Linked DNA regions of Homo sapiens. The protein of the gene in region 2 interacts with the protein of the main gene of each other region in a pairwise test. Each region holds a gene or a part of one and is shown on either strand. Other genes may lie near its edges.

The links. Proteins that work in one complex are often made in the same cells at the same time.
Region 1: the proteins of ASPG (region 2) and MYOZ3 interact in binary tests that used the Homo sapiens proteins (3 or more experiments, as listed by UniProt).
Region 3: the proteins of ASPG (region 2) and SHC3 interact in binary tests that used the Homo sapiens proteins (3 or more experiments, as listed by UniProt).

The regions. Positions count from the first base shown.
Region 1 is NC_000005.10:150,657,404-150,664,269, forward strand, and holds the start of MYOZ3 (myozenin-3), read left to right. Parts: upstream 1-3,847; 5' UTR 3,848-4,024; intron 4,025-5,537; 5' UTR 5,538-5,538; coding exon 5,539-5,599; intron 5,600-6,866. UniProt on the Homo sapiens protein: Myozenins may serve as intracellular binding proteins involved in linking Z line proteins such as alpha-actinin, gamma-filamin, TCAP/telethonin, LDB3/ZASP and localizing calcineurin signaling to the sarcomere.
Region 2 is NC_000014.9:104,102,693-104,109,711, forward strand, and holds part of ASPG (60 kDa lysophospholipase), read left to right. Parts: intron 1-870; coding exon 871-983; intron 984-1,611; coding exon 1,612-1,794; intron 1,795-1,929; coding exon 1,930-2,043; intron 2,044-2,635; coding exon 2,636-2,758; intron 2,759-4,106; coding exon 4,107-4,202; intron 4,203-4,489; coding exon 4,490-4,653; intron 4,654-5,705; coding exon of another isoform or gene 5,706-5,802; intron 5,803-6,009; coding exon of another isoform or gene 6,010-6,150; intron 6,151-6,536; coding exon 6,537-6,623; intron 6,624-7,019. UniProt on the Homo sapiens protein: Exhibits lysophospholipase, transacylase, PAF acetylhydrolase and asparaginase activities.
Region 3 is NC_000009.12:89,175,800-89,183,557, forward strand, and holds the start of SHC3 (SHC-transforming protein 3), read right to left. Parts: upstream 3,020-7,758; 5' UTR 2,662-3,019; coding exon 2,188-2,661; intron 1-2,187. UniProt on the Homo sapiens protein: Signaling adapter that couples activated growth factor receptors to signaling pathway in neurons. Involved in the signal transduction pathways of neurotrophin-activated Trk receptors in cortical neurons.

The sequences.
Region 1 (6,866 bases), on a different chromosome or scaffold from region 2:
ACACTCTCTCTTTCTCTCTCTCTCTCTCTCACACACACACACACACACACACACACACACACACACACACACACTAGTTAGTGCCTTGGATGAGGCGGGGCAGTGTGTATATGGACCCCTGGACTTGCTACCTTCAGGGTTCCATACTCGTCCCTCCCCTCCTGGCTCTGCTGTCTGGAGTCTGGCAAGCGGGGTGTGTTCAGAAGGTCCTAGGCCTGTGTCGCATGTCCAGGCACTGGCCTGACCATCCGGCTCCCTGGCACCAAGTCCCAGGCAGGAGCAGCTGTTTTCCATCCCTTCCCAGACAAGCTCTATTTTTATCACAATGACCTTTAGAGAGGTCTCCCAGGCCAGCTCAAGGTGTCCCACTATCCCCTCTGGAGGGAAGAGGCAGGAAAATTCTCCCCGGGTCCCTGTCATGCTACTTTCTCCATCCCAGTTCAGACTGTCCAGGACATCTTATCTGCAGCCATAAGAGAATTATAAGGCAGTGATTTCCCTTAGGCCCAGGACTTGGGCCTCCAGCTCATCTGTTCCTTCTGGGCCCATTCATGGCAGGTTCTGGGCTCAAAGCTGAACTGGGGAGAGAAGAGATACAGAGCTACCATGTGACTTTACCTGATTGCCCTCAGTTTGGGGTTGCTTATTGGGAAAGAGAGAGACAAAGAGTTACTTGTTACGGGAAATATGAAAAGCATGGCCAGGATGCATAGAGGAGATTCTAGCAGGGGACAGGATTGGCTCAGATGACCCCTGAGGGCTCTTCCAGTCTTGAAATGCATTCCATGATATTAGGAAGTCGGGGGTGGGTGGTGGTGGTGGGCTAGTTGGGCTTGAATTTAGGGGCCGATGAGCTTGGGTACGTGAGCAGGGTGTTAAGTTAGGGTCTGCCTGTATTTCTGGTCCCCTTGGAAATGTCCCCTTCTTCAGTGTCAGACCTCAGTCCCAGTGTCCATATCGTGCCCAGAAAAGTAGACATTATCCTGCCCCATCCCTTCCCCAGTGCACTCTGACCTAGCTAGTGCCTGGTGCCCAGTGACCTGGGGGAGCCTGGCTGCAGGCCCTCACTGGTTCCCTAAACCTTGGTGGCTGTGATTCAGGTCCCCAGGGGGGACTCAGGGAGGAATATGGCTGAGTTCTGTAGTTTCCAGAGTTGGCTGGTAGAGCCTTCTAGAGGTTCAGAATATTAGCTTCAGGATCAGCTGGGGGTATGGAATTGGCTGAGGATCAAACGTATGTAGGTGAAAGGATACCAGGATGTTGCTAAAGGTGAGGGACAGTTTGGGTTTGGGACTTACCGGGGTGATGTTAGATCTGGAACCCCCAAGTGAGGCTGGAGGGAGTTAAGGTCAGTATGGAAGATAGGGTTGGGACAGGGTGCTTTGGAATGAAAGAGTGACCTTAGAGGGCTCCTTGGGCCTCAGGAATGCTCCTGCTGCTGTGAAGATGAGAAGGTGCTCTTACTCAGTTAATGATGAGTGACTATATTTACCAAAGCCCCTACCTGCTGCTGGGTCCCTTGTAGCACAGGAGACTGGGGCTAAGGGCCCCTCCCAGGGAAGGGACACCATCAGGCCTCTGGCTGAGGCAGTAGCATAGAGGATCCATTTCTACCTGCATTTCCCAGAGGACTAGCAGGAGGCAGCCTTGAGAAACCGGCAGTTCCCAAGCCAGCGCCTGGCTGTTCTCTCATTGTCACTGCCCTCTCCCCAACCTCTCCTCTAACCCACTAGAGATTGCCTGTGTCCTGCCTCTTGCCTCTTGTAGAATGCAGCTCTGGCCCTCAATAAATGCTTCCTGCATTCTTCTGCCTCCTGTGTCATTTTCAGCTGTGTCTGATGTCCTTCCCTTCTCCCCAAGCATGGAGCAGTCCATGGGACTCTGGGTGGCTGGGAATATTTGAGACATATGGGATGGGAGCTTGGGAAGAAGCAGCCATGGGGAGAGATGGGAACAACGGACAACTTGAGGCCATAGAAGTACCTGGACTGCAGTCCTGGTCCTGTCATGGACGAGCGGGGTGACCCTGGGTGAGCCCACTCCTTCTCTAGGCCTCAGCTTCCCCATCCGTATAATGGGGAGAGTGGGTCTAGGTAATGTCTCAGGGTGGTATTGTCCAGGCCCTGACCACAGAGCACTATCACCAGAGTGGGCAGGGCCAAGCTGGGTCAGGGCTCTGTGCTCTGAGGCTGTTTCCTCATGGCAGGTGGGGGTGCCAGGGCAGGAAAGGCGCCACTGTAAGAGGTCCCGTCTGAGCCAGGCAGCCCCAGTGAGGCAAGGACTCGGGCCATGAGGCATCCTCTCCTGGCAGGAGTGTCCTTTGGCCAGAGAAGGGGATTGTGATCCTGCTCCCAGGTGAGGCTAAGCTTGCCCTGGGAACACACCTCACTCTTCCTCTCTAGAAGCTCAGGCCCACCGAGGGCCAGGAAGCTAAGGTCAGGGTGGTGGACAGCAGAATCTAGGCTTCTGATTTGAGAGGTGTCAGAAATACACCCCAGGATAGTCTGCCAGCACACAGACACCGGTGGTCCCCACCCTGCACCCAGCCCATCCTTGCTAGGCCCACCCTTCCCCAGGAGTGTGTGCCTTGGACCCAATCTTTATCTTCGGCTGGGGCCTCACTGCAGCACAGTGTCCCATTGCCTACTGGTGATCTCATCCCAGTCCCCCGACACCTCAAAGTTCATCCAAAACTGACCTCAGTGTCTGCCCCCACCCCTCCTGCTCCTCCCCTTCCAGTCACCCAAGCATGAAACAGGGGAGTGGGACTCCCTTTCCTCACCTTCCACATCCAGTTCCTCACCAAGACCCAAGGGTTCTTCAAATAACCCTCAACTCCCTCTCCTCTCCATCTCCTTGTCACTGCCCTGATCCAGCCACCCCTGGTGACAGTCAGGTCCTCCTGCCTCCAGTCTGGCCCCCTCCAACCCATTTCCCACATGGCAGCAAAGATATCTTTGGAAAATGCCAATCCGATCACTCCATTTCACCACTTTAATCTTGTCAGCAACCCTTTATAAACACAGTTTCCTTTTGAAAGCCTGCTGGGATCTGGCCGCTGCCCCCACTGTCTGGGCTAATCTCTCAGCACTGCCCCCAGCTCCGGCTCTACTTGCCAACCCCCTACCCATCTTTGTAGGTGACATGTCCACTGCCTGCCATGCCCCTTCTCTGCCCAGTGAACTCCCACTCATCCTTCAAGGCCCAACTCCAGTGTGTCCTCCTCTGGGAAGCCTTCTCACCCCCCACCCCAGGCTGAGCTGGTAACTCCCTCCCCTGGGCTCTCCCAGAGCCTTCCCCAAAGCTTGTTTACCCGTCTGAATCTGACCTGGCTGAGCTCCTTGAAGACAGAGCCCTGCCTTATTTATTTTCAGTCCTTAGAGAGAGGCTCAGGGAATGTGAGAAGGTAGAGGGAGGGAGGGAGGGAGGGAGGAGGGGAGAAAAGAAGGCAGGCAGGAAGGAGGCAGAAGAAGAAAGGCAGGAGAGAAGAAAGGAAGGAAGAAAAGGATAAGTCAAGCAAAGATATTGAGGAGCAATTCATTCATCCATCTATCTATCCATCCATTCCTTCCTTCGACAAATATCTGCTGAGTTCCTATCAAGCACCATTCTTGGCACTAAGGATATAACAGTTAACAAGCGGAAGCTACCAGCAGCTGACCCTCAACATTTCCAGGTGACTTTGGTGTGTGCATATGTGAGTGTGTGTGTACACGTGGGTGCAAGCCCTCTGTCTGCACAGGCCTGTTGCCAGGGCACCTGTCTTCCCTAGGGTCTGGTGCTTTTAGCCTCTGGCTCCAGCTCCTATTGCAGCCCGAAATAAGGCTGTGACCCATGGCAAGGCAGGAATGATTCTCATCAGCTGAAGCCAGAGCTGGCTGCAGGGGACACCCTGCTCGCTGCCTACTGACTGCTGACCGCTGACTGCCTACAGGGACGCCACGCAACTCTCAGCTTCCCGACAGAGGTGTTAATCTTGAGGGTCTAAGATTCCCTCCTGCCTATTGTGGTCCCATCCTCTCAGGTACCAGCATCCTAGGGGAGCTTGGGGAACTCAGGGGAGTGGGCAGAGGAGGTGAGCCAATCCCCAGAGCTCCTTCCCCCGGAGAGGAAGGGCCCTGCAGTGGATCTAGGGAGTTTGGGGCCCCATGCAAGCCTCGATCCTGGTTTGGGAGGAGAGGAACTCTAAGCTCTAGGTTACCCTGCATTAAATGGGGAGGGTGTGGCTAGGATTAAAGGTGGGGAATAGGTAATGGCTCTGCTCAGGACTTTGGGATTTTTAGGCAGTAGAGGGAAGCAGCTTCTCTGTAAAATGAGAGACCCTTCCCAGCATCTGTGAATTTCTGTAAAGGGAGTGTTTATCAAGAAACAGATCTGTGGACTGTGGAATCCTAAACGGTTGTGATCGAGGCATTCTCAATCATCCCATGACCCTCACCCCAAATGCATGTAGACACACTCATGTTTACGTATAGTTTTAGGGGGTTTGTGAACACCCTAAAGCCCATCCATGGATCTCTGTGATTTAGCCTAACCCCCTACTGTTACAGATGGGGGAACTGAGGTGCAGAGCTGGAAAGCTACTTGTTCGCAGTTACAGAGAAAGCCAGGGACACCCACTAGACTCCAGTTGCACAATGCAGTGCCCACTGACTCCCAGGGCCCCTTGTCGGTGTTGGGGATACAGATGAAGGCAGATTGTTTTCTAAAGGAAGGAGTATAGGAAAACCTGGAGGCAAAGGAGAAGGGTACCCAGGTGGGTGGTCAGTCGAGGAGCTCAAGGGCTCTGCCTCTTCTCCAGAGGGCAAGTTAAGGTACCTGGGCAAGTTAAGGGCTCTGGACCTCATTTTATTTGCAAATCTCTTCCAAGATTCTTTGAAAGTGCCATGAGATACAAATAGGGGGATGGAACAGGAGGAAGAGAAGGGACGAGGGAGAAGAGAACACCACGGAAGTTAGCCCAGTAGCGGGGAGATGGGGAGGACGGGGGATGGTTCTCTCTGCTTGGTTGGACCAGCCTGTGCCCTCAAGCGTCAGGGCCAAGTGCCAAGGATGAAAGGGGCTCACCAGCCTTGCAGACCCCAGTGTAACCCCAACCTAGTCCATCCTCCCCCTTCCCCTAACTTAAACCTCCAACTTCTTTCAGCCTTGGACTAGGACTCTCCTGGGTCAACCGATGACAGTAGTGCCTGAGACCTTTGCCTGCCCCACCCGGATGCCCCTGGCACCTACTCTCCCTCTGATCAGGATGCCAGAGCTGGGAAAAGGCCCTAGAAACCACCCCTGAAGAGACAGTGCTTCCCTAGCAACATGAAAATAGATTCGTGCAAACTTGAGCACCTCCCTCTCGTTCCCTGGGCCTCAGTCTCCTCTGCACGGAGACCCTGAAGTCCCTTCCAGCTCAGACATCCCTTGCTTGTGATTTGGGGCTGGCCTAAAGCTGTTCAGGACTGGGGCAGGGTGAACCAGAGACTGGAAGGAGGTCTGGGGAGAAATGGAGGCAGCCTGGTCCATTTATGGGGGTCTCTCCTCCACAGGATGATCCCCAAGGAGCAGAAGGGGCCAGTGATGGCTGCCATGGGGGACCTCACTGAACCAGGTAAGGTGGTTCTAGCCTCATGCCTTCCTCAGACTCCATCATTTCCTTGCTCCCAGGCTGCACTCACTCTGGCCTGCTGGCCCCAGGCCTGGGCAGACAGGTGTGAGCTCCAGGCCAGCTCTGAGGGAGTGCCTGTAGAATTTGCTGCCTAGGCTGGGAAGCTTCCCTGAGGCACTGGGAGGGGTCTTGCCCATCTGTCCACAGACCCAGGAGCTGAGGCTGAGTGTCCCAGGCTGGGCCTTGGCTCTAAAATGACCCTGGCCCTGGCTTCATCTAAGGCCTCACCTCAGCCCCAAATTAAGCTCTGAAGACTCTGGTCCCAACTCCAGCCCTACCTGTGGCTGCAAGCTCTGCACACACTTGCCTTTGCCTATTACTCCTGTGGGTCTCACCGAGGCCTCTGGGTGGCCCAGGATGGCTGGGCCCCATGGCTAAGAGAGGGGAGTGGAGAGAGTGGAGTAGGGTGGGAAGACAGGGGAGTCGAGAGAGTGGAGCAGGGTGGGAAGAGCAGGCTGCCCATTTGAATACAAAACTTTCTACTTAAAGCTGATTCATCAAATGAGTAAATCATTTTTATCATTTCATTAAAAAAGTTTAAATTCATTTTTATCAATTTTAGAAGACCTCTTGAGGAACTCTTGATACAATTTTGGAATCTGTTTATTTGGTCTACTTTAGAGGATTTCAGGTATTTTAAAAATTAATTTAGGGGCTGGACACAGAGGCTGATGCCTTTAATCCCAGCACTTTGGGAGGCTGAGGTGGAAGAATTGCTTGAGCCCAGGAGTTTGAGACCAGCCGGGGCAACATGGTGAGACTCCATCTCTACAAAAAAAAAAAATTAGCCAGGCATGGTGGCACATGCCTGTGGTCCCAGCTACTCAGGAGGCTGAGGCAAGAGGATCGTTTGAGCCTAGGAGTTGGAGGCTATAGTGAGCTACGGTTGTGCCACTGCACTCCAGCCTGGGTGACAGAGGGAGACTCTGTCTCTAAAAAAAAAAAAAAAGAAAAAGAAAAAAATTAATTCAACTAAGTCAGAGTTCTCAAGCTTTATTGTGAATCATAATGATTTGATGTTGGTTAAGCATACAGAGTCCCAGCATCTACTCCTGAGGATTCTGACTCAGGGGACCTAAGTTAGGACTTGTGCATTTGCCTTCAGCGTGCTAAGGAGTCAGTCATATTTCATGACTTCATATGTGGCATCCTTTTAACCTATTTTGTGTGCTCTTGCCTCCTTTTGTTGATGTCCAGTTTCTTCCCCTAC
Region 2 (7,019 bases):
GGGCCTGTGGCATCAGCCTCCCACCCCCACCCACATGGAGCGGGAAAGTCGGCAGAACCCTGGGGGCTCAATTGCTGCCAGAGTGGCGGCCTTCAGCTCGAGGACAAGCATGTCCTCTGGGGAGCCCCTCTGCATGGACGGGTTCAAGGGGCACTGACCCCAAATAGCCATCCCTCCCCACTTCACCTGGGGCCTGCACCTCCACCATCACCCACCCTGGGTGTGGGGAGGGGGTGATGGGCACACATTAGGATTTTGGGGTGAACTGGATGGAGGCCTTCTCTCCCCAGAGGTGAGGGGTCCGAAAGTCCATTTGTTCGCTCATTCAACCACTGACCCGGTGGGCAGTGGGCACAGTGGGTGCCTGGCAAGGGGCAGAGGAGGCTGGCTGGTTCGACGATGCTGCCCCATGCCTGTAACCCAGCGCAGTGACTGCTGGTGGCTCCCCAGCTGGGCATGCCTGCCCTCCTCGCCTCTGCGCTCGCCTGACGCCCCCATGCGGCCTGCAAGACACAGCCGGGCCTCCATCTCTGCAGGACCCTCCTGCCCCTCGCCTGGCCAGCGGAGTTTCCCTGGGCTTCACCCTTGAGACTGTGTTGCCCATTGCTCGGCCATCGGTCTCTCGCTGGCCAACGAGTGCCTCCTCCCACAGCCCCGTGCACGCTGCGGAGCCTGGCACAGGCCGGACTGCGCGGAAGCCCGGGAGGATTTGCCTGCGGGAGAGGAGGCAGGGCGAGGGGGCTGAGCCGCGAAGGCTCAGGGCTCTGAAAACAAGGGAGGAGGCGGCCTGTGCAGAGGGCCAGGCACTGGGCTGGGGTCTCGGCTGGCAGGAGGCCTGAAGGCACCACACAGGCCCTTCCCTGTCCTCAGTCAACAGGGAGCTGGTGCGGAAGGTGGACGGGAAGGCTGGGCTGGTGGTGCACAGCAGCATGGAGCAGGACGTGGGCCTGCTGCGCCTCTACCCTGGGATCCCTGCCGCCCTGGTAGGGACCGCCCCGGCCATCCTGCCCCTGCAGCCCTGAGCCCCAGCCCTCTGCAGCTCCCACGGCCCTCAGGCTCCCTGGGGCCCTCACCAGCCAGTGCAGACCCCGCGTGGACCTGAGATGTCTGCAGTGTGGCCCCACCAGCCCCAGGCCCTGTCCCCTGTCCTCCGTCGTGGTGCTTTCCAGCCTCTCGGGGAGTGGGCAGGGTTGGGGCGCGGCTCACAGCCAGAACGGGGTCCTCCATGCTTTTCTAGAGGCAGCGTCCTCCCGCAGATTCCAGCTGGCTGGGAGCCGCCCCTGCTGTGCTGGACAAGGGTGTTTGCTCTGGGGCCTCTGATGGCCTTCTTGGCTCCTCTCCCACCTCTCTGAAGTGTTTCCACGGCGTTCTGCCACACAAAGCCTTCGTCCCTACAGACAGGGCGACCCTTTGGGAGAATGTGGGGGGAGCAGCCCCCTCCAGGTGCCAGCAGCCATGCACGTCTGCCAGGAGCCCCACTGTCCCGGGAGCAGAGCAGGCACCAGCTGCCCCTGGCTTGGGGTCCCTCTCCTTGGGAGGGCATGGGGCGAGTCTCAGTGGTGCTGAGGGCAGAGACCCTCACCATCCAGCCCCCACCCCACCGCCCCACAGGTTCGGGCCTTCTTGCAGCCTCCCCTGAAGGGCGTGGTCATGGAGACCTTCGGTTCAGGGAACGGACCCACCAAGCCCGACCTGCTGCAGGAGCTGCGGGTGGCCACCGAGCGCGGCCTGGTCATCGTCAACTGTACCCACTGCCTCCAGGGGGCTGTGACCACAGACTATGCAGCTGGCATGGTAGTGCCGGGAGATCAGGGCCTAGCGGGGAAGGGGACAGCCTGAGGGCCTGGCAGAGGTGGGCTCTGACCCACCCCTCATGGGCTGGGGGCCGTGGTGAGTCGCCCTTCCTGCCCACACGCCCCCTCCTCACAGGCCATGGCGGGAGCCGGCGTCATCTCAGGCTTCGACATGACATCGGAGGCCGCCCTGGCCAAGCTATCGTATGTGCTGGGCCAGCCAGGGCTGAGCCTGGATGTCAGGAAGGAGGTGCGGGCGCTCTCGGGCTGTGGGCAACCCTCGGTGTGCACAAGCATGTCAGTTGGCTCCCAGGGGCATGTCTGGGGCGATGCCGGAAGAGCCTGGGGGCCGGTCCAGGGTGTGTCCTGTTTGGGAAGGGGAGGGATGTGGCTCCCTATAGTGGGGAAGGGCAGCTCTGGGCCCAGGCTCCCCACAGCCCTCACTGGACTCCCAGCCCAGGCTCCGCCTGTCCTTGTGCCTTCTCAGACTGCATGGAGACCTGAGGCTCCCCTAACTGTCGCCAGGAAATCCTCTCCTGCTCTCCACTCTTCCTCGAGGGTGGGGTTCAGACACAGCTGGCCCCAGACCCTTGGGTTGCCAGCCTCTGGGGCTGGACGGAGGCTTTTGGGGCCCCTGGAGACCCTGAGCTGGTAGGGCCAGGGAGTGGGGCTGGCCTTGGGAGGGGACCCAGCCCGCTCTGGCCCGAGGGATGAAGCACACACGGCCGAGGCTCAGGCCAAGGGCAACCCCTGACTGTGCCCGGGTAGCCCGACCCTCCAGGCTGTCCTGGGCTGCCCATCCAGCCCTGGCAGAGCCACTTCACCTCTGTTCTCTCCACCAGCTGCTGACCAAGGACCTTCGGGGGGAGATGACGCCACCCTCGGTGGAAGAGCGCCGGCCCTCACTGCAGGGCAACACGCTGGGCGGTGGGGTCTCCTGGCTCCTCAGTCTGAGCGGCAGCCAGGTAATGGCGTGGGACACGGGCCTGAGTGGCAGCTGGGGACTGTGCACCCTCTTGGTCACCCTGGGATGCACCAGGCAGGCACGAGCCCCTGTAGCCATCACTCGAGCCCAAACAGTTAGGCACACCCGGGTTCTGGGGCCCAGGAGGAGGGTTTGGGGTCTGCAGCAAGGAAGGTTTGCAGGGTCTATAAGGCAGGAGGCAGGAAGGGCCAGGCGGTGGGCACACAGCAGGGAGGCCTTCTGACTGGCGGCGCTGCCTTAGTGCGGGGCTGCCTCGGGAGCTGCCTGTCCAGAAGAAGGGCGGGTGAGTGGGGGCGGTGCTTGCTCTGGGCTCTCCCAGGCTCTGAGCACCAGGGGTTCCAGGTGAGGAACCCGGAGGTGAGGGCCAGCCTTTGAGCACGTCCCCTGCACAACTGAGGTGCCCAGACCTAGGAAGGGGGGCTTTCGAGGCCTGGGGTCTGCAGGGGGATGGGGCCTCCCTGGACCCCGCAACATGCCCCCTTGGCTGCTGGGCCAAACATCCAGGCCTGACATGGGGCCTGGCAGGCCAGACAGCCTTGCTCCCCACTGTGTGGGGTCCTGCCCCGGCCTCAGTGCCTCGGTTTCCCCCTACAGGGATGGACCTGTCTTGTGAGCCATGTGCTGGAACTGCCACTTGCTGGGGCGGGTGATGGGCAGATGGAAAGGACTGGCGTGCATGGCCTGTTATTAGGGTGGCTGCATAGGGCCTGAATGCTGTAGGGAGGCAGGCCAGAGGCAGCAGCCTTGTCACCAGGCCACGTTGTACCCGCTGGGTGTGGTGGCACCTGTGGGGCCTCTGCCAGGACCGCTGGGTGTGGTGGCCCCTGTGGGGCCTCTGCCAGGACCGCGGCCTTTTGGCGTCTTGGGGAGCTCCTGGTGCCCGGTGCTGGGGGCAGGTGGCTCTTCTGGGAAGGTGCAGCCGTGGGAACAGGGCCTTCCTTCCAGGGGAGGGGTCTGGCTCTGCTTCCCACGCTCTCCTTATGTGGGTGACCATTCCGTCCCGACGGCGGTGGGAGCAGACGGGGGAGTCTGGGAGGGTGGGTAGCAGGTACTGGCCACACACCCGTTGGGGACAGGGCTGGATGGTGGTCTCGTGGCCTGGCCTTAGCTCCAGGGGAAGGGGTCCTAGGTGGGCCTGGATGGGGTGGGGTGGTGAGGCTCAACCCCAGGCCTTCCGATGTGGCAGCTCAGGTTCCTTCTCACCCACGCCCTGGGATCTGCGGGCCCTTGTGTGGGGGCTGGCAGGGGTCATACAGCACCGGGGACTGCCAGTTCCACCAGATGCCAAAGGGAGGCGTGGGTCCCAGGGTGCCGCCTTCCCCACCTAGGAGGCAGATGCCCTGCGGAATGCCCTGGTGCCCAGCCTGGCCTGTGCTGCTGCCCACGCCGGTGACGTGGAGGCGCTGCAGGCGCTTGTGGAGCTGGTGAGCCTCCCCCACCCTGGGGGCCCAGCCCCAGCCACGCCTGGCCTGGGGGCTCTGAACCCTGTAGGCAGGACGGCCTTTCATCCACCCACTGACCACACTAAGCCCTTGTCAGCCAGACTGGGCAGCAGGACTGTCCTGCCAGCTTGTCAGGTCTCACTGAGGCTTTGAGGGTGGGCGCAGGGGCTGTGCTGGGCCCTACCCTCAGAGGGACCCCACCCTCCCCATGGCCTACCTGGCCCCGCCTGGGTCTCCCTCAGGGGTCGCATGTCCTTGTGTTACTCCAGGGCAGTGACCTGGGCCTGGTGGACTTTAACGGCCAAACCCCACTGCACGCGGCCGCCCGGGGAGGCCACACAGAGGCAGTCACCATGCTGCTGCAGAGAGGTGTGGACGTGAACACCCGGGACACGGATGGCTTCAGCCCGCTGCTGCTGGCCGTGCGGGGCAGGTAATGGAGCTAGGGCTGCACAGAGCTGCCTTGGACAGGTGGGCGCAGAGAGGCTGTGGGCTCCTGCACTCAAACAGCCTCCCGGGGCTGGGCTGGGAGAGGTGGAGGACACCTGCTTCCTAAAGGCTGCCCCCGCAGCCCGGGGCCCAGTAAGACCCCGGCCCAGAGTTCCTAGAAAACAAAAATGTTGTGGACAAAGCTGGGAGGACACGGTGCATCTCTGTGCACCTGTGGGTATGGGGGGCTGGGGTGGAGGTGGGGCAGAAGGTCCTGGCCCAGCAGCCAGACGCGGTCAATAAAAAGCAGGCTACGTGGCAGCAGATCTGGGGCTGTGACAGGCAACTCGGGCCCTGGAGGACAGGCCCAGCCTGTGCGTGTGGGGGTCCCCTGCCCCACCAAGCAAGCCCTGGCTGGTGTCTCTTCCCAAAGTCCAGAGCAGCAGCAGAGACGGAGTGTGTGCCTGTGCCCCTGCGTGGGGGGCGGGGCCAGCACTGGTGGGATCTGCGTCCCGTCTCCCCTTCCTACTCTTTATTGCCCCAGCCTGGGAAGGCCAACGACCTGTCTGCTGGTGCCGCTGCCCGGACCCATGGGCTGCTCAGAGATCCCAGGGCCCCTGGGGATTCCTCCCTGTGGGTGGGAGGACTTGGCCTGCAGGACCCTGGGTTCTTTTCGGGGAGGGAGTGCTCAGGAGTCCCATGGAGAGAAGGCCGGGGTGTCTGAGCCTGGGGTCATGTGACCCTGACGTGTTCAGTTGTGGGTTCCCCTCCCCAGCGGTGAAGCGGTGAGCCCTGGGGTGGGGTGTGGCACCTTTTGTGAAGTGGGTGACTGGGGTAGAAGGTTCTTTCCAGCCTCCTGTGATCATTGACAGGGTGCTCAAAAGAATAGGAGAGAACAGGGTGGTGGACAGGAGGGGGCGGGGCTGTGAGGGTCCCCCCGAGCAGGGCTGGGGTGATCCGGACTGGAGCTTCTAGACTGGGCGTCCTTGGGTGTGGGTGGGTGGCGCGGAGACGAGCTCACACAGTCCCGCCCCCTCGTCTCCTCCTGACTCACAGGACCAGGCTCACAGCACGCCCCCAACCGGTCTCCCAGCCTCGCTCCGCTGCCAGGCTCCCTGAGGCCGCCTGCCTGGCCCTGCTGTGCCTGAGTGGGGTATGGGGAGGCCACTGCCTCATACCTATTCCCAGGCTCCCTAAATGGGGTGATGGGGGGATCTGTGGTGCTTTGCAGGGGTGGGGGCACGGCCAGCGATTATGGCACAGTCTTTAGGTCACCCTGTACAATGGGCTGTGTGGCCTCCGGCCTCGGGCCTTTGTGCCTCTGCTCCTCCTTGCTAGAGCCCCGACCCCACCCCCACAGACTCCACTGTCCGGGTGCCCTGCCCCCACTCCTACCCAAGGGCAGTCGGCCGGATTGATTCAGTGTCCCCTGCGCCTGGCTGAGGAGGTCACCACGGGGTGTGATCAGCGTTTGGGTGTGCAGTGGGGCCGGTCAGCTCATGTAAGGCTGTCCTCTGAAATGGGCTGTCCCCTTGGAATGGGTTGGGGAGACTGCCCTGGGAGGAGCTATTCTGCTAGCACCAACTAATGCCCTCCCCTGGGTGCTGGGTGCGGGGCTGCCACAGAGTTGACCCCACCCCTTGCAGACCTCAGCTGCCCTAAGAAGGAGTACTGGACAAATGGAGGTGGTGGGATCCCGGGATGATGTCACATGGGCCTAGGCAGAGGATGGGGGGATGGGCCCTTGTCTGAGGCTAGGGCTGTGGGGTCTTGGGCCGGCCGGTCCCCGTCCCTGTGCACAGGACATGAGCTCTGCTGGCTCCTGAGTGAGGTGCAGCGGGGCTGGGCTGGCCAGGGCAGAAGGTCAGCATGCTCATTCTCACACAGGCATCCGGGTGTCATTGGGTTGCTGCGGGAAGCCGGGGCCTCCCTGTCCACCCAGGAGCTGGAGGAAGCAGGGACGGAGCTGTGCAGGTGAGTGCAGCTAGAGCACCTGCTCTTCCAGGGATGTGGGGGACACAGCTTGGGGAAGCGAAGCCAGACCTGCTGGGAGGGACAAGTGAGTCAGGGTGTGGGGGCTTTCAGAGGCGAGGCCCGCTGACCTCAGTGTGCACCAACCTGGCTGATGGGAAGAGGTGTCTACCCTGGACCATGTCATGGGGCAGGGGAAGGAGTTGTTCTCAGCTGAGCGAACAGTCCAGCAAGGGTGTCTCTGTGTGCACATGTGTGCATGTGTGTATGCATGTGTGTGGGTGCATGTGTGTGTGTGTGGTGGGCTTGAGGAGGGGTATGGGAATTGGTTGTCGGGTGTGAGAGGGGCTGGGGTGTGGACTGGGGGGTGGCTGGGGCTGCATTTGGGGAGGTTGGGGC
Region 3 (7,758 bases), on a different chromosome or scaffold from region 2:
TTCAAAAATTCTAAATAACGCCAAATTAAGATTGTTTTCAGTTTAACAATTTTTCAATAAAATAAGTTCGAGGTTTTAAACTCAACATGGGCAATGCGGGAATTTGCACATGTGCGCCAACAGAGGGCCATGTGATAATTTGAATCAAACATGCACACACACTTTAGCATCTGGTTTTCTTTCTGCGTGATTTCAAACTTCTCCAGGACAGCAGAGGACAATGCCTGCGTTTATGTTCACATCACAGCACCATTCATGGCTGCTAATGAACAAGGAACCAAAACATGGATGGTACAGAGCCCTAATTAGTCATGCCATGCACCCCTCAACCCATCACTGCAACCCCTTAAATTTGAGGCAACACAAAGTAACCCCAAGACACAGACAAGCTCTGTGCAGATCCAGCCCTTTGACTATGAATACTACTGCTGATGCTGCCAGTAAGTCACAAACCTTACAGCAACAGATTGTCGACGCAGAGCCGTCTTATTTTCGTACATTCATCATTATTTTGCCACATTTGACCTTTCAAACTTGATGCTGGCCTTCCTTCTTTAAAAAGCAAAAGCAAAGTTCTAAGCAAAGTGATTAAAACAAAAATTTAAAGCCATAAGTTTGAGAATTCTCCCTCAATTTGAAAACTACTCTGTTTAATATGACAGGTAGAAAAAGCTTTGCCAAGGTCTATTTGTCTATTTGAAATGTAGGCTTTTTAAAACAGCAATTATGCTAACACCCCAGAAGTAAACACAACCTCAAAGCTGTCAGGGATTTTTGGTTTGGTTTGTTTTTTTCTTTTTGTTTTGGCCCCTGGTTATATAATTTAAATAAGCAAAACAAGAAGAATATTCAGTACCTCTTAAAATAAACTCAACCAAATATGCATATATTATGCTCATCTATACCCCTTTGGTAAAATATAATAATCCATAGTTTGAAGGTTAAATTAAAAAGCAGACTGAAAAGGTGAAGAAGCCCTCTTTTAACAACAATGGCCACATTCATCTGTAAGTACTTTTTATATAGTTAAAGGCAATCCACAAAGTTAAGTATTTCTGTTAATATTTTGGTTCCGAAATTACCAGACACTGCATTTTACCTGAGGATGTGTTCTATTTAATTTTTACACTGGAATCTGCAGCCAATATTTACGGAACAGACATCCTGGGGGTTTCTCAGTGTTATTGAGGACACGGTGGGGATAGAGTTTGTGTCTCATTTCTTTCTCAATACAAAGCCATGCCTTGGAGTGGCAGGATTGAAATACTGCAACTTCCATCCTTAACCCCTGTCTGCTCGGCTGTGGAGGCTGTTAAAGCTCTGAGCTGCCCAACCGGCAGAAGGAAATAACCGCGTGGCAGATTACTTGAACTGTGCTGAGCATTTTTCCTTAAATATCATAACATGCTTGCATAAGGGTGGAATTTTATTGACTACATCGTGATTTTATCATCTTTGTGTTGGAGGAAAAAACTCCTTTCCAGCCTGTGGCTCCAAGCGCAGCGCCCTAGTTCCCTTTTAGCACATTTAAATGGAAGACTACAGTCACCAGAAAAATAGTCCCAGAATTCTCATTCCGCTGCTGTAAACCAGAACCTTTCCTTAGGGAATGAAAGACAAACCCCAAGAAAACCTGGACTGGGTGAGAAAGTAAAGCCCGTCGAAGAGAAAGCAGCACAGCATTTGGCCTGCTCTGCAAGGAGCTGGGAATTCTTGCTGCGGGGGGCAACAAGATACCCACCCTCCCGCCGGGGAAGACACAGCAGGAGTAGGGCCGCCACTCCGTGCATCTCTCCTCCCGGGGGCTGCCCAGCTCTCCCCAGCGCGTTTCCTAGATACTAGGCAGGCCGGACCCCCGCTGCCCAGGGTTGGGCGCCCATGACACTGGTCAGACATCTGGTAAGCCAGGTGGCAAAGGCGTGCCAAAAAAGTGGAGCCTAGGGAAAACCGGGACGGAGCGGGCCACCCGAGTGGTAAACCTTTTCCCAATGGATGCGGGAAAAGCGCATTTGTAGTTCCCTCCTCACCGCTGTCAAGCGAGCTGATTGCTAAGGAGTGCGCATTTGCTTGCCTCTAACGTGACAGTCGCGGGAGCGCCCCGCACCCCGGGCTTCAGGGAATGAAGGAGTCTGCCCCGAACTGGCCCCAGAACCCCCAGCCCCCAGGGCGGCCCGCGCCCGCACCCACCTTGACCACGTAGGTGACTCCGGGCCCCAGCACCTGGTCGCTGGCGTGCGGCGCCCCCCGAGGGGGCCTGGGCAGCGGCTCGTCGCCGGGCCGGCCCTTCCTGGCGGCGCTCATGGCCGGGGCGCGGGGCGCCGAGGGCGCACTGCCGTCCGGGGCGGCCAGGCTGGGCGCGCTGCAGCTGCCCGAGAGCCGCGCGCCCGCCCGCTCCCGGGCGGCCGACGACAGGCCGCGGAGGCCCGAGCTGGAGAGTTTCAGGTGGGACACCTTGTGGAGCAGGTGGCCCAGGCTGCCGGGCCCATCGTCGGGCGCCTTGCGCAGCGCCTCGCCGGACACCAAGTAGGGAGCCGCCGCCGGGGTCGCGCGCGCCGCCGAAACCTTGCCTCCGCCGCCGCTCACCGACAGGCTGTGGAGAAGGTCATCGACCGATGTCACCGAGTCATTCCTGAAGCGGTTATACTTGGTGCGTGGAAGCATGCCCCTCCGTGGGCTCGCTGCATCCGCCCGGGCGCTGCTGGTGCCGGCCCCGGCGCGGGCTGCCGCGCATAGCAGGCGAGCCACTGTCCCCGGAGCGGGACGGAGAGTGGGGGCCCCGGGACAGCCTTCTGGAGAACGAGAGCAGAGCAAGAGGATGGTGCCCTCCCACCGTTAAAAGCCAGCACAGCGGCGGCCGCGCAGCCCCGGCCCGGGAGACCGCTGCTTGGGGTTGCACGTTTGCTTTGCAAAAGTCATAGTTGCCTCTGATGGAGCGCCCAGCTGCTTGGGGCTGCTCACAGCAAAAGCATGACTCACTCTGAGAGGAGACCCTTCTCAACAAAGGCTCGGTGAGCACTGCAAATCACTTCCTGTAGCAGAAGAAAAAAAAGGAAAAAAAGAAGAAAAAAACGACATCCACCCGCTGACAGCACACTATAGCCAATCAATTCTCAAATTTCCTTTTTCTACCTTCCCAGATATTTCCTTCCAACCTTTGATTTTTCACCTTCCCATCCCCCGCAATCTGCATTTGTGCCAAAGGTAAATCCAATCCAGTTCCTTCAAATCGTCAAATGAACTTTCTGAAACCCATTATTCTGTTAGGTTTTGCTCGTCCCTGCTCAGCCCATCTGTGTGAGCCTGTAAAAGTGTCTAACAGCGATGCGTTAAAATGTGACGAAGGCTTTTTAAGAATCAGATCTTCAGCGAATCCTGATGAATCTTGACTTGGAAGGCAGCAGGAATTTTTAAATAGAAAAAAACAAAAAGGATATTCACCCCCAGGTGACTGTAAAATACCAATTTCCTGGGTTTTGCTTTTTCTTTTCAAATTAACAGAGCAGCGATGACAAGTGTCTTTGTGGCAATGCAGTTCCTCAAAAAAAAAAAAAAAAAAAAATCTGCATATGAACTTCTGCACAGTGCCAATCAAGGGGTCTTCCCTGCTCATTTACAGCAGTCTTTCTCAGCCAGGGTTAAGTTGAATATCCACTTCCAAAAAAGAAGAGTGCTTCTTTCACGAGTGGCAACAGGCTCCAGAAATCCATTCCAAAAAAGGGGCTGCATTTGAAGCTTTAATCCTACTGAATGTGTTTAAGCTCTGGAAAAACGCCTAAGAAATGCTACAAATACATTTCAATGTTCCTTCAGTTGCTGCTTGCAACCCTGCAGTCAGGAAGGAAAAAATGCAGCTGTTCTTATTGCACATCAAATCCACAAGGAGGAAAATATGCCTTCTTTTCAGGAGTCAGGCTCGGGCTTGCAAGTAAAATGCACAGGCCTTCTTCCTCTCAGTTAGGAGAGCAAGGCTTTCGCTGTCCCCAGAGGTCTGCCCGAGACTGAAGCCCTCTGACTCTTGACCTCAGTGGGCTCTGCCAGGCTTCCTCATGCATTAGGATCACCTGCTCCACAGTGAAACACTCACTATCAAAGTTTTCCCGCAACTTCTGAGCAAGCGAATAAATTCAGCTCTAGCACACTCTCAGGTCACCCTGAGTCCTCTCACTCCCATGACCGAACATGTGGGGCACGTGAGGTCCTGAGTCTTGAACCCTGCTCTATGGAGCAGAGTTTAATGAGCGCCACTCATGGCGGGCGAGCGGGTGAGGCCAACCCCTAGGACGCAAGAGCGCAGAGGAGCCGCGGCGTCCCCGGTACAGGAAACGCGTCCCCACGGCTCGCCTCCTGTGCCGCAGCCCTAGCAGAACAGCTACACGGCACTCATTTGTTCCCTTTCCCTAGCTTGCATAGCAACAGCAATTGCACACCCCATAGATGATTTTGATGGTTATCAGAGTCCTCCCCAGATCTGTAGCGAAACAGCCCTATCATTCCCAAAGCGAGATCTTCATTAGATGCAGACAAAAACCGCAAAATGTGAATGAAATGCTGTTTGTGTGAATGAAAAGGCTAGCGAGCGAGCCAGCGTTTCTGTGAATGAAGCAGGGCCTTGCAGCCGGTGCCAGGCAATCCCCTGGGCTCCAGCGGCCTCAGCCAATGAGCGGCCGCCCCGATGACTCATTCAACAAAGGCTTGCTCAATAGTGGAAGATTCCATTTCAATCAAAGGCGGGATCTTTTATCCAACGGCAGTGTGGGAAAAAAAAAAAGAAAAAGAAAAAAAAACACCCAGCCGGATTACAAAGATACCGGGAGGAAGAGGCCAGCTGCTATGGAGAGGAAAAGCTAGTTTTACAAGGGAATTCAAGATCCCTTGGTCAGGTCTAAGTGTGAAGAGGGTCTCTCTTGGAGGTGAGCTGTGCCCCTAAACTTTCATTCAGCCGTTCATTTACATCAAGGAGCAACCATGAATGTGCCAGTCGTTCAGCTTTTATTATGAATGTACATTGAATGCACGTTCAAAACCTAGGTTCCTAGCCCTTGATTCTTTTTTTGTAAAAGGCATGTAGGACACCTGTACACGTTCTGAGGCTCCAGGGAGGAAAAAAAATCCAAAGCTATGTACTTAACGTTTAGCCAACAGGAGACTTTTATTTCTTTTATTATGAGGCCAGTGGAGGGAAATTGGTCATTTTAAAATATAAATAGCAACATAAATTTACTATATATGAAAAGATATATAATCAAAGACAGAAATTAATATTCCAAGAACACAGTAGTACGGTAAAACCTCACTTACCTGGAAAATAGTATCAACATTTTGGAACGTAGCAGAAAGATGGAAAAAGAAAAACCCGAAGGCCTCTCAGCATCAAAAGGAGGCTGTGCAGCCCACACAGAAGCTCACACACCCTACTCATGAGAAAACCCTTTGCCCTTTCTGGGGAGCTGTTCATGTTTATTTTAGACCCTGTACCAGAAAGCCCACATATCTTCTTGATCAACATAGAGACAGATGAGAGAGGAGACCACTGGGACAGAAAATGCTAAATGTAAATGAAATTTTCTGTTGCTGGCTTGCTTGATAGCCATGGAAGGAAGCAGGAAAAAAAAACTCCATTTTAAAGTCAGCCTTGAGATTCACCAAAGCCAGGCAGTCTGGGGCAATTTACAATGAGAGCCTTTCCAGTATGTTGTGGTTTTTCTTTTTTAAATCAATGCTTAAACACGTATTTGCTTTCTATGGCTGCCGTAACAAATGACCACAAAATCAATGGCTTAGAATAACACAATTTATTATCTTCCAGTTTGTAGGTAAGAAGTCCAAATGGGTCATGCTGGGATCCAGCATGGGTGTGGGCCGAGCTGGTTCCTCTGGAGGCTCTGAGGGAGAATCCACAAATTTCTGAGAAGGTGCCATGAGCTGGGCCCTGGGGAAAGTGGTTTTGCCTTCTGGAAGGCAGAAGATCTGAAATTAATGTTATAACCTAGTTAAGACTATGTGAATTTTGTAATATGTGTGAGATACAAAAACTTGACCAAAGGAGTGAGCTTGTCCTGAGGATGCGGAGGTGACCCCTGACCCCAGTGGAGGCATCCTCCAGGTGACTTCACAGGAGGAAACTGTGTGGGCAAGGGCTCCAGGCCTGAGCAGTCCAGAGTCTCCCAGAATCCCTGGTAGGTTGGTTGGGTTGGTGAGGAGGTCAGGAGGCTGGGCACTCATAAAGGCTTAGAGGGGTGATGAGGTTTGGATGTGTGTCCCCTCCAAATCTCATGTTGAAATGTGACCCTCAGTGTTGGAGGTGGGGCCTGGTGGGAGGTGACTGAATCATGGGGGTGGATCCCTCATGAATAGCTTAGCACCATTCCCTTGGTGATAAGTGAGTTCTTGCTCTGAGCTTACATGAGATTTGCTTGGATAAAAGAATATGGCGGCCTGGTGTGGTGGCTCATGCCTGTAATCCCAGCACTTTGGGAGGCCGAGGTGATGGATCACCTGAGGTCGGGAGTTCGAGACCAGCCTGGCCAACAGGTGAAACCCCATCTCTACTAAAAATACCAAAACTAGCCGGGCATGGTGGCAGGCCCCTGTAATCACAGCTACTCGGGGGGCTGAGGCAGGAGAATCGCTTGAACCCGGGACGAGGAGTTTGCAGTGAGCCGAGATCGCACCATCGCATTCCAGACTGGGCGAAAAGAGCAAGACTTTGTCTCAAAAACAATAAAAATAAAATAAAATAAAATAAAATAAAATAAAATAAAATAAAATAAAATAAAATAAAATAAAATAAAATAAATGTGGCGCCTCCCCTCTCACTCTCTTTATTGCTTCTGCTCATGCCATGTGACACTCCTGCTCCGCCTTCACCTCCTGCCACAATTAAGGCCCTCACCAGAAGCCAAGCAGATGCCAACACCATACTTCCTGTACAGTCTGCAGAACCATGAGCCAATTAAACCTCTTTTCTTTATAAATTACCCTCTGGCATTCCTTCTTAGCAATGCAAGAACAAATGGACACAAGGGGCTTGAGAGAGGGTCACATAGTCAGGTTTGCCTTTTATGGAGACCACTTTGATAGTGACTTGGGGTGGCTCTGGGAAGTTGAGAGGAGGTAGGAGACAACAGGACAAGTTAAAAAGAACAAGGGCTTGAATGAAAGCAAGAGCAGTGGAGCTGGAAAGAGAGGGATGGATTCAAGATAGCTGGGAAGGTAAAGGATCTGTCTCTGTGATGAGGAAGTGTAAGAGAGAGCGAGGCTGGGTAGGCTGTCTGCAGCTAGAAGCTAAGACAGAGTTTGGAATGCAAGATGCTTATTAGAGATCAAGCTCCACAGAAAGCAGGGGAGGCTGCAGGAGGGAGCAGAGGCAGAAGTGGGCTGTGACCCAGGCCCCACACACCTCGTCCTTCCAAGAGTTCTGGAGAAAGAGTGCCATCCACAGAGAGTATCCCCTGGCCTGCAGGGCTCCTCATTCACTCTCACGCACTCCCTCACTCTCTCCCACATTCACCTCTTTAGTGTGGGCTGCCCAGGGAGGAACAGCCTCCAGCAGGTGGCACCCCACAGCTGAGCACCCCCAGAAAAAGTTGATGTGAAGGCTGTGTGCCCATGGCACCCTGCAGCCCAGCCTCTCCCAAAGAAAGGAATGCCAAGCAAAGCCCACGTTTCTAACTTGGACCATTGGGTTGAGCTGAATGTTAGCCATGAGGATGAGGAGCATCCCCATGACAGGCAGGTCATGGGGAAAGGCAAGGGCTG